3 linked regions of the Homo sapiens genome follow. The protein of the gene in region 3 purifies or fractionates together with the protein of the main gene of each other region. This does not show direct contact. Each region holds a gene or a part of one and is shown on either strand. Other genes may lie near its edges. The genes, in order: CWF19L1, HNRNPUL2 and RALY.

What was found.
Region 1: the proteins of RALY (region 3) and CWF19L1 purify together in Homo sapiens (affinity purification with mass spectrometry; one large-scale study listed by BioGRID and IntAct). This does not show direct contact.
Region 2: the proteins of RALY (region 3) and HNRNPUL2 purify together in Homo sapiens (affinity purification with mass spectrometry; 2 studies listed by BioGRID and IntAct, with this or other methods). This does not show direct contact.

What each region holds. Positions count from the first base shown.
Region 1 is NC_000010.11:100,234,121-100,236,694, reverse strand, and holds part of CWF19L1 (CWF19-like protein 1), read left to right. Parts: intron 1-930; coding exon 931-1,028; intron 1,029-1,617; exon of another isoform or gene 1,618-2,574.
Region 2 is NC_000011.10:62,717,346-62,720,999, forward strand, and holds part of HNRNPUL2 (heterogeneous nuclear ribonucleoprotein U-like protein 2), read right to left. Parts: intron 2,847-3,654; coding exon 2,678-2,846; intron 1-2,677.
Region 3 is NC_000020.11:34,073,800-34,077,453, reverse strand, and holds part of RALY (RNA-binding protein Raly), read right to left. Parts: intron 3,636-3,654; coding exon 3,588-3,635; intron 1,581-3,587; coding exon 1,414-1,580; intron 753-1,413; coding exon 639-752; intron 427-638; coding exon 209-426; intron 1-208. UniProt on the Homo sapiens protein: RNA-binding protein that acts as a transcriptional cofactor for cholesterol biosynthetic genes in the liver. Binds the lipid-responsive non-coding RNA LeXis and is required for LeXis-mediated effect on cholesterogenesis.

The sequences.
Region 1 (2,574 bases), on a different chromosome or scaffold from region 3:
GGGTTCAAGTGATTCTCCTGCCTCAGCCTCCCCAGTAGCTGGGACTACAGGCATGCGCCACCATACCTGGCTACTTTTTGTATTTTTAGTCGAGACGGGGTTTCACCATATTGGCCAGGCTGGTCTCGAACTCCTGACCTTGTGATCTGCCTGCCTTGGCCTCCCGAAGGTATTACAGGCATGAGCCACCCACGCCTGGCAAGATCTGGTTTTTGACATGTTGAGCCTAAGGTTTTTGACATGTTGAGCTATCAAGGCATTCCAAAAATGTTATTAAATAGGCAATGGGTTGGGCATGGTAGCTCACACCTGTAATCCAACACTTTGGGAGGCTGAGGCGGGAGGAGCACTTGAAGCCAGGAGTTTGATACCAGCCTGGGCAACAAAGTGAGACACCTTGTCTCTACAAAAAATAAAAAAATAAGCTTGGCATGGTGGCATGTGCCTGTAGTCTTAGCTACTCAGGAGGCTGAGAGTCAGGAGGATCACTTAAGCCTAGGAGTTTGAGGATGCAGTGAGGTATGATTGCACCACTGTACTTCAGCCTGGGCAACATCGCAAGACCCTGTCTCTAAAAAAAAAAAAAAAAAAAAGAGGCAGTGGACAATTTGGAACTAGAGCACTGGGTATTGACTAGACTGGAGATGAACAGGGCATTACTCCAAAGTTTAGTGCTTTCCTGGGAAGAGCAAGAAATTAGAATTTCCTAAGGTAGGAACTTAGAAGGATAGACGCCACTGGGAGGATATTGTTAGTATCTTCCAGTTAGACTTTTTAAGCCCTAGTTCCACTAAGTGGCTTGGGATCTATAGCAACATACATATCTTTTTTTCTTGTGCATTTAGACTGAATTATTTGCCTAGAGATGAACTCAGATTATAGATTTTTAAAGCATTATTGGACATCCTCATACAACTCTGTTTACTTTAGATTGCACAGCCAGGAGCAGCATATTTTTATGTTGAACTTGACACAGGAGAAAAGCTTTTCCACAGAATTAAAAAGAATTTTCCTTTGCAGTTTGGAAGGTATGTTTTTCTTCTTTTCAATGTATTTTCACTAGACCTGCTATGAACAGAGTGGTGGGCTACATGGGACAATTGATAAAAAGCTAAATTGTAAACAGTCCTTGCCCCAGAGGACCCATGGTCTTAGGGCAGATGTTTACATATATGACAGTAATGTAATGTAGAATGTGAAGAGTACCATGACAGAGTTTTGGAGAACAATGTGCTGTAGAAATTCAGAAAAGGGACAGCTCATTTCTAGTTGGTGAAAGCCTTCATGAAAGTGGCAAAGTTGAACCTGAGAGGCATATTTAGAGGGCAAAGATTGAGGTGAGGGCATTCTAGCCAGAAGTGCTAGGGAACTTTAATTGAGCACATACTCTGTGCCAAGAACTGTACCAAGAACTTTACACATACATGACTCATTTAATCTTCATAACTCTGTAAGGTAGGTACTGTCATCCCGATTTACCAGTGTGGAAAATGAGGCTCTAGAGCAGTGCCCGGTAGACTTTTCACAACGATGGAAATGCTCAAATATCTGCACTGTCCAATACAGTTGTGACTAGCCACTTGTGGCCACTGAGTGCTGAAATGTGGCTAATGTGACTGAGGAACTAAATTTTTGATTTTATTTAATTAATTAGAATTTAAATTTAAATAGCCATACCTGGCTAATGGTTACCCCACTGGATAGCAGGCTGTAGAGAGCTTAGGTAGCTTGTCCTAGTCACACAGTGGTAGGTTCAAACCCAGGCCTGTTGGACCTCAAAACTTGAGGTCTTAACCTCAGTGTTCTACAGTATGGTAAAGGCCTAGAGGAGGCTTCAGTTCTGTTCCTCGTATCAGGCAAAACATGACTGCAAAACCATAGAGGGAGTAACATAACTTAAGCAAAGATTGAAGATGGGAAGTTGCTGGCAAGAAGATACAGTTTGAAGGGGAGTGGAAAATGTGTAGAACAGAGTATCTGATGCTGGTGTCTGTGATTTGCAGCTGTTTTTTCTCCCCTAGTTAAAAATGGGCTTTGAGTGAGCCTTGAACCTGTCTTGGACTAATTCAGAAAGCCTCCAAGAGATTGCCCCCTTAGATAAGTCCAGTAAATGTAGTTGTCTACATTTTTCAAAAAGATAAATGGGAACAAGTGTGCTACGAGATTCAGACATCTGACGTGATGTTTTCGTTGTTGCCTCAGCAACAGATGCGGTTATGAACATTGACAACATAAGCACACGATTGCAGATACACATAGGCGTATAAAGCACACAAAAAGAAGATTCTCTGAATGGTTTTGTGCTTATGATGTATTTTCAATATTGAGTAATTATCAAGATACTAATTTATAGTTATATAGCATTTTATAGTTAACAAAATATTTGAAATGGCATATTTTTTTCAGCTGTACAAGAAAGGTAGTTCTATTTTCCTTTTATATTTGAAATAGGCTCAAAGTTTGCCCAGGGAGCTTAGGTTCTTTGACTTATAGAGAATTCATGATTTGTTTCTAACTCTTCTATTTACTGTAACTTCAAAGTGGAAAATGAACCATATAAATGTGTAATAGAAT
Region 2 (3,654 bases), on a different chromosome or scaffold from region 3:
CATTAACTTTTTCTACTCTAAGTTTTCCCTAAATTGTAACAGACCCAGGCAAAGGGCTATGTAGATTTACAAGTTCTTAAGTGATCTATAATAAATTAGGAGTGAACTGGGTTAAAGTTTCTCATCAGGACAGAAGCAGGTAACCAGAGGCTAAAAGTAACTGAGAAAGTTCTGGTGTTGGTCAGATAAGATGCTAAGAAATAACATTTTAAAAAGAGACTCAGAGATGGCCGGGCATGGTGGCTCACGCCTGTAATCCCAGCATTTTGGGAGGCCAAGGCAGGCGGACTGCTTGAGGTCAGGAGTTCGAGACCAGCCTGGCCAACATGGTGAAACCCTGTCTCTACTAAAAATACAACAATTAGCCAGGCATGGTGGCAGGTGCCTGTTATCCCAGCTACTCGGGAGGCTGAGTGCCACTGCACTCTGGCCTCGCTGACAGAAGAGAGACTCAATGAGAAACTGACCCAAGCCTAAAGGCATCTGCTCATCTATACAAGGAGAAGAGAAGACAAGAGTACAAGGGCTCTCATTTACCACCTGTCCGTGATAGGCCAGCACATCTGCCAGTCTCTGGACGTCAACTTCAGAAGCTGAGTCCCAGTGGAAATTCAGTTCAATGGGGCTCTCATGATTCTTAGATGAATCCAGTTGGCCCTCAATTTTATAAAACTGAGCTACATTTCTCTGAGTGCCTAAGTAAGAGTTATGGACTGGCATAGTTCATTCTCAGTAAACTCTGAGGATCTGGCTCATAGATATGCAAACCAGTTCCCATGCCTGGGGATTATCAGTATTTGAAGAGCAAGCAGTTGCTAGACTCGGTGGGATGTCAGGAACTAAAGGCAGCAATGGGAAAAAAAATCACGTTTTAAGGGAATAGGAGGATCAATCAAAATATTAATATTTCTTATGTAGACATTACTCTCTGTCTTATGTATTGCATTACAGACTTCAGCCAAATTAACAAACAAAACACAAACATAACGTGATACCAGAAATCAAGTTATACCAATGAGATCATTCACTCCAACTGCCATATTTTAATCTGAACCATAATAATCTCTCCCTGCGGCCAGGCGCAGTGGCACACACCTGTAATCCCAGCACTTTGGGAGGCCGAGGCGGGCAGATCACCTGAGGTCAGGAGTTCGAGACCAGCCTGACCAACATGGCGAAACCCTGTCTCTACTAAAAGTACAAAAATTAGCTGGGCGGGCACCTGTAATCCCAGCTACTCAAGAGGCTGAGGCAGGAGAATCGCTTGAACCCGGGAGGCGGAGGTTGCAGTGAGCCGAGATCGCGCCACTGTACTCCAACCTGGGCGACAAGGGCAAGACTCTGTCTTTAAAAAAAAAAAAAAAAAAAGCAGAATAAGAAATGTAGACAAACAGTAGATGTACCAGAAATATTTACTTAACAAATAACTGATTCACAGAAGCCTCTCCCTTGATCCTTTGAGTTTAAATTACCCTACGGTCACTTTTTTTTTTTTGAGACCGAGTCTTCTCACTCTGTTGTCCAGGCTGGAGTGCAGTGGCACAATCCCAGCTCACCGCAAACTCTGCCACCTAGGTTCAAGCAATTCTCTGCCTCAGCCTCCCGAGTAGCTGTGATTACAAGCGCCCACCACCATGCCCGACTAATTTTTTTTGTATTTTTAGTAGAGACAGGGTTTCACCATCTTGGCCAGGCTGGTTGTGAGCTCCTGACCTTGTAATCCACCCACCTCAACCTCCCAAAGTGCTGGGATTACAGGCGTCAGCCACCGCGCCTGGCTCACTATTTCCCTTTCTGTATCTTTTTCAAAACGAGCCAAGGCGGCTAGGCACAGCGGCGTATGCCTATAATCTAAGCACTTTAGGAGACCAAGGCGGGCAAATCACCTGAAGTCAGGAGTTCCAAGACCAGCCTGGGCAATATGGCGAAACCCCATCTCTACTAAAAATACAAAAATTAGCTAGGCATGGTGGCACATGCTTGTAATCTCAGCTACTTGGGAGGCTGAAGCAAGAGGATCACTTGAACCCAGGAGGTGGACGTTGCAGTGAGCTGAGATCACACCACTGCACTCCAGGCTGGGCAACAGGGTGAGACTCTGTCTCAAAACCAAACCAAAACAAACCAAGAAAACAATGAGTCAAAATTATTGCTTCTCTCTGTTCATTCATTTATCTACAAGTGCTCACGACCATTAAGTTCCTCTTCAGATTTACATTTTAGATGTAGAGTGTCACTCCAGTTGCTAAGAGACCTCAATAAGGTGTGCACTGACCAGGGATAAGATCTCTTTAACTTGTACAATTTTAGCCCACTGCTATGGTTTGAGTTATGTCCCACCAAAGTACAAGTGTTGAATACTTAATCCCCAATGAGCAGTATTGAGAGGGTGGGACTTTTAATGTGATTTGGTCATGAGGATTCCATCCTCATGAATAGATTAATGCCATTATTGTGAAAGTGGCTTTGTTATAAAAGCAAGTTCTCTCACATGTGCCCTCTTGCCTTTTGCCCTCCTGACATGGAATGATGCAGCAAGAAGGACCTCACCAGATGCTAATGCTATGCTCTTGGACTTCCTAGCCTCCAGAATGAGGGAAATAAACCTCTATTACTTACAAATTATGAAGTCTATGGTATTCTGTTATAGCAGCAGAAAATGGACTAAGACACCCACCTTTCATCTCCAGCATTATAGATTCAGGCACATCATCTCCCTCTACTTCCTTCCTCAACTCCAGCCTCTTCTTCCAATCTTCCTCATTAGGGACAACCACCACCACTTTCCGAGAGAAGGTCTTGAACAGCAATAGCTTCCGCCGTTGGCCAGAATTGTACACATTACACTAAGAACAGGAGGAATAACTGATGTTTAGGAAGAAAATTATCACTCAGATTTAACCAAAAGAATCAGTATCAGCTGGGCACGGTGGCTCACGCCTGTAATCCTAGCACTTTGGGAGGCCGAGGTGGGCAGATCATCTCAGGTCAGGAGTTCAAGACCAGCCTGGCCAACATGGTGAAACCTCATCTATACTAAAATACAAAAATTAACTCGGCATGATGGTGGGTGCTGTAATCCCAGCTATTTGGGAGGCTGAGACGGAAGAATCGCTTGAACCCAGGAGATGGTGGTTGCAGTGGGCTGAGATCACGCCACTGTACTCCAGCCTGGGTGGCGGCTGAGCAAGATTCCATCTCAAAAAAAAAAAAAAAAAAAAAAAAAAAAGGCCGGGCGTGACAGCTCACGCCTATAATCCTGTTATCCCAGCACTTTGGGAGGCTGAGGCAGGTAGATCATGAGGTCAGGAGATCAAGAGCATCCTGGCTAACACGATGAAACCCTGTCTCTACTAAAAATACAAAAAATTAGCCAGGCATGGTGGCGGGCACCTGTAGTCCCAGCTACTCGGGAGGCTGAGGCAGGAAAATAGCATGAACCTACGAGGCTGAGCTTGCAGTGAGCCGAGATAGCGCCACTGCACTCCAGCCTGGGCGACAGAGCGAGACTCGGTCTCAAAAAAAAAAAAAAAAAAAAAAAAGACTCAGTATCTTTGACAACTTAGACACGAGATAAAGGGTCAATACACATGATCTTCTTTAACTTTTCAAACTACATGACAGGTATTATCCTGTTTTGCTCATCAGGGAAAC
Region 3 (3,654 bases):
GGCCTCAGTGGGACTTCTGATGGTGTCTGAGATAGGCAAGTGCCCCCTGCTCATTCTTCCCTCTTTCCCCCAGGACCAGAACCCCTGGGAAGGAGAGAACAGGAAGTTCACAGTGGGGGCAACCAGCTCAGGCTGCCCATTCCCCTGTTGGCCTCCTGAGAGTAGGAGCACAGTCGAGTCCCAGTCGTGCCCCTGGCCAGGCCCTCACCAGCTCTTCCTCGCTGTGTGTCAGGAGCCCTTCCTCATCGCCGTCGTCTCGGGTCCGTGCTTCCCCCTGGGGCAGGCCTGCCTCAGAAGTTGTGTTCTCTTGGGGGGCTGGTGGCCGGCTGCTGCCACCGCCACCGCCACCACCACTGCCACCGCCACCGCTGCCACCACCACCGCCGCCGCCGCCGGCGCCACCTCCATCACCCTTCTTCTTGCCATCTTGAGGGGAAGGGGTGGAGGAGGGGAGAATAAAACTCAGCCTGGGGTAGCTGTCTAGGGCAGCACCTTAGCGGAAGCTGGCCTCAGCATGGTGAGTGCAGGTGGTCCAGGATCTGCAGGGCCACCCTAGCTCCTCTCTCCCATGTACTATTTCCCCATGCTCTGCCCTGTGCCCTGGTCATGGAGGTGGGTGAGAATCCTCAGAGGCTGACCTGGATTGGCCTTTTGCTCCGCAGCGATCTGCTCCAAGCGGCTCAGCAGGGCATCGATATTGGACTTGATCTGTGTCAGCTCCGTCTTGATGGCCTGCAGCTCACTGCTCTTTACTGGGAGTGGAGGGGGGACAGGGCTGTCACCTAGGGGGCTGGAGGCTTGACACTAGCACAAAACCTCAGCCCTGTTCTTTCAACCAGGAAAGCAGTTATTTTTTGTTTTGTTTTGTTTTTTCCCTGCTTAGGAAAAAGGTCTCCTCCTTAGACTACCTGGCGTCCATCCCTACAGTGACAGCACACACTTCTGAACCTGGCTATCTTTTCTCCTGATCTCTCAACTCTGAAAGGGACCAAAGACAGACAGGAGCACAGGTGTGTATGTGTGGTGTGCTCTTCTGTGTGCACCTGAGCAAGAACATGTGTCTTTTGGAATCTGAATTCCTGGGTGATTAGTTAAGCAGCATGTGTGTACCAGAGTGAATGTGGAGTAATGGGCCTGGGTAGACCTGTCCTTATCCTTACTAGAGGAAAGATGGCACCATTTCTTCACTGGGCACCATATCCAGCACTGGACTCTCTGTGCCCAACACAACCCCTCCTCCTAAAACATCAGCTGTTTCCTCTTAGAAATGCATGAAAATACTTGGCTGTGTTAGAGCAGCAGAACTGTGGAAGACTTGTTGTTTTATCTATGTTCCAATGTAAAAAATGTGATTCTATTATTTTGCTAATGATAAAAATGCAAATTACTTAGGAATATGATACAGTCACTCACACTTGATCTTGGCTGAGCTGGTGGTGACAGCTGTGGAGCGGGCAAAGAGCTTGACAGGTACGTTAGTTTTGACACGCCGGACCAAAGGGACTGTGACCCGGGGTCGCTTCACAGGGACCGCCCTGGGCACTGGCACGGGCGACAGACGGCCCCGGTAGTCGAAGAGCCTGTGAGGGCAGATGGGCCAGAGGCTGCAGCATGGCTTGTGGCCACCAGGGCGGTATTGCAGCTCCGGCTACAAACGTGTGTGGCTGGTGAGGGGCTGGGAGGCCTGCACTACACACCTCTGCTGGCTCCTAGCAAGCCCTGGAGTGAAGAGGAAGGGCTTGCCGGACCCTGATGGCTGTTGGGATCCTCACTACCTCACTACAACCTCTCCAACCATCCAGGCCCAGTAAGGGCAGGCAAGGCATCAGGTGGTAGCAGTTATACCCCATTCAAAAGAGGAGACATCCCTAGGTCCCCTGGCACCCAGGCCTGCTCTATTACATGACCTGGCTTCTGCTTGGTCAACTGCCACCCCAACCTCTGCTCAGAGTTTGCAAATCTCAAAGCAGCACAAATCCCCAGCTAGGAATAGAGAGGTATGGGAGTGGGGGTCAACTGAGCCTACCTGAGCCTCAGTTTCCCCATATGCCAAATGAGGATGGCTATCCACATTCAGTGTCCACCCAAGGGCACAGCATGAAAGAATTCGGTTAAAAACACACTTTAGAACGTGTAATAGATGAAAGGTCAGGGTACTGAGACCCTCAATTCACGAACCCATGACCTCAGAGGCATAAGACTGAACTCTAAGCCCTTTCCTTACTTGACCTCCTTAATCACCACATCCTTCGTGCTCCATTCCAGAGACAAAGGCCAGGGGCTTGGTAGAGTATCAAGGTTGGGCAGCTCAATCAGACCCCCCCAGGGCTCCCAGGCTGTGCACTGCCCCCAACCAAAGTCATCTCCAAGCCCTCTCTAGGAGGGCTTCCTTTCCAGCTGACCAGGCAGAAACTCAGTAGGCTGAGAAGTGGTCTCTCTGACATCTGTTGCTGCCACCTTTTTCAGGGAATCGCAGCCCAGGGGGTAAACTTTGGGTCAATTTTCCTGACAACGGCCAGGAAACCTGCCATCACTGGGCAAAAGCCCCATTCCTTGGGGCTCCTTTGTTCAGGGAGCCCCTTCCTGGAGGTGGTGATGGCTGCAGATGGAGAGTCTCTGGGAATGGATCCGATCCCAGACCCTGCATTTCTGCCCCCAAGGGGAGGGAACGGCTCTGGCCTTGGTCAGAATCACTGAACCACAGAATCCCAGAGCTGGAGGAGCCTGGAGAGATCACTTGGTGCAAGCCCATTTCACAAACTGGGAAGGGAATTTGCCCAAGATCACATAATCCATTCAGTGGCAGAGCTGAGATTAGCATCTAAATCTTCTGACCCCCAGGCTAAGACACTTTCCACTACACCACACTGTCTCCTGAAACGACTCACAGGGGCGGGGTGGGGATGGGGGCGGACGACTCATGCTCAGAGAGGCACTGTTCTTCTTGGGCTGCCTGGGGTGGGCTAAGCTGGACAGAGGGAGAGAAGCAGGGAGGAGGAGAGATTTGAGTTAGTATCTACCATGATTTCTACTCAAGAATGTGGCTAGTGCTGTTGTAGTGGGAGCCCACAGCCTCTGGGCTGGAGTCTGGGTAGGGCTTGGGAGTGCAGGGTAGACCACAGCCCGCCAGGGACTAATTAGACTTCCAAATGGCTGCTGGCCTCTTGTCTCTAAATATAAACCCAAGAAGCTTAGACTGAGCTCTGGGGCTCCTACCAGCTGCTTGGGCACCTCACAGAGGGAAGGGCTCAAACTCCCTGCAACCAGCGCTGTACCCTGTTGTGTATTCCAACTAGCCACACTTACATAGCTCTTGGCTGTACGGTCTCCTTGAGCCTCACCCAAGGACAAGAAGGAAAAAGGGCAGTTAGCATGGCAGACAGTGTTGTATGGTGGTAGGAGCTCTGGCCTGAGCACCTGCAGCACAGGACCCCAGTCTCAGCTCTGCTACCGACTGGTGGAGCAACCCCAGGCAAACCTCTGGGTTTTGGTTCTCATTTGGAGAACTCAGTGGGCTGCACCAACAATCTCTCAAGACCCTTCCAGCTTGGCTGTTTCATGCCTGGGCACGCCCCTCCCCTGCTCACCTGTCGTAGAAGTCGTCCCGGTAGTAATCATAGTCAAAGATGTAGCCACTGGGGAAACAAAGGGGAG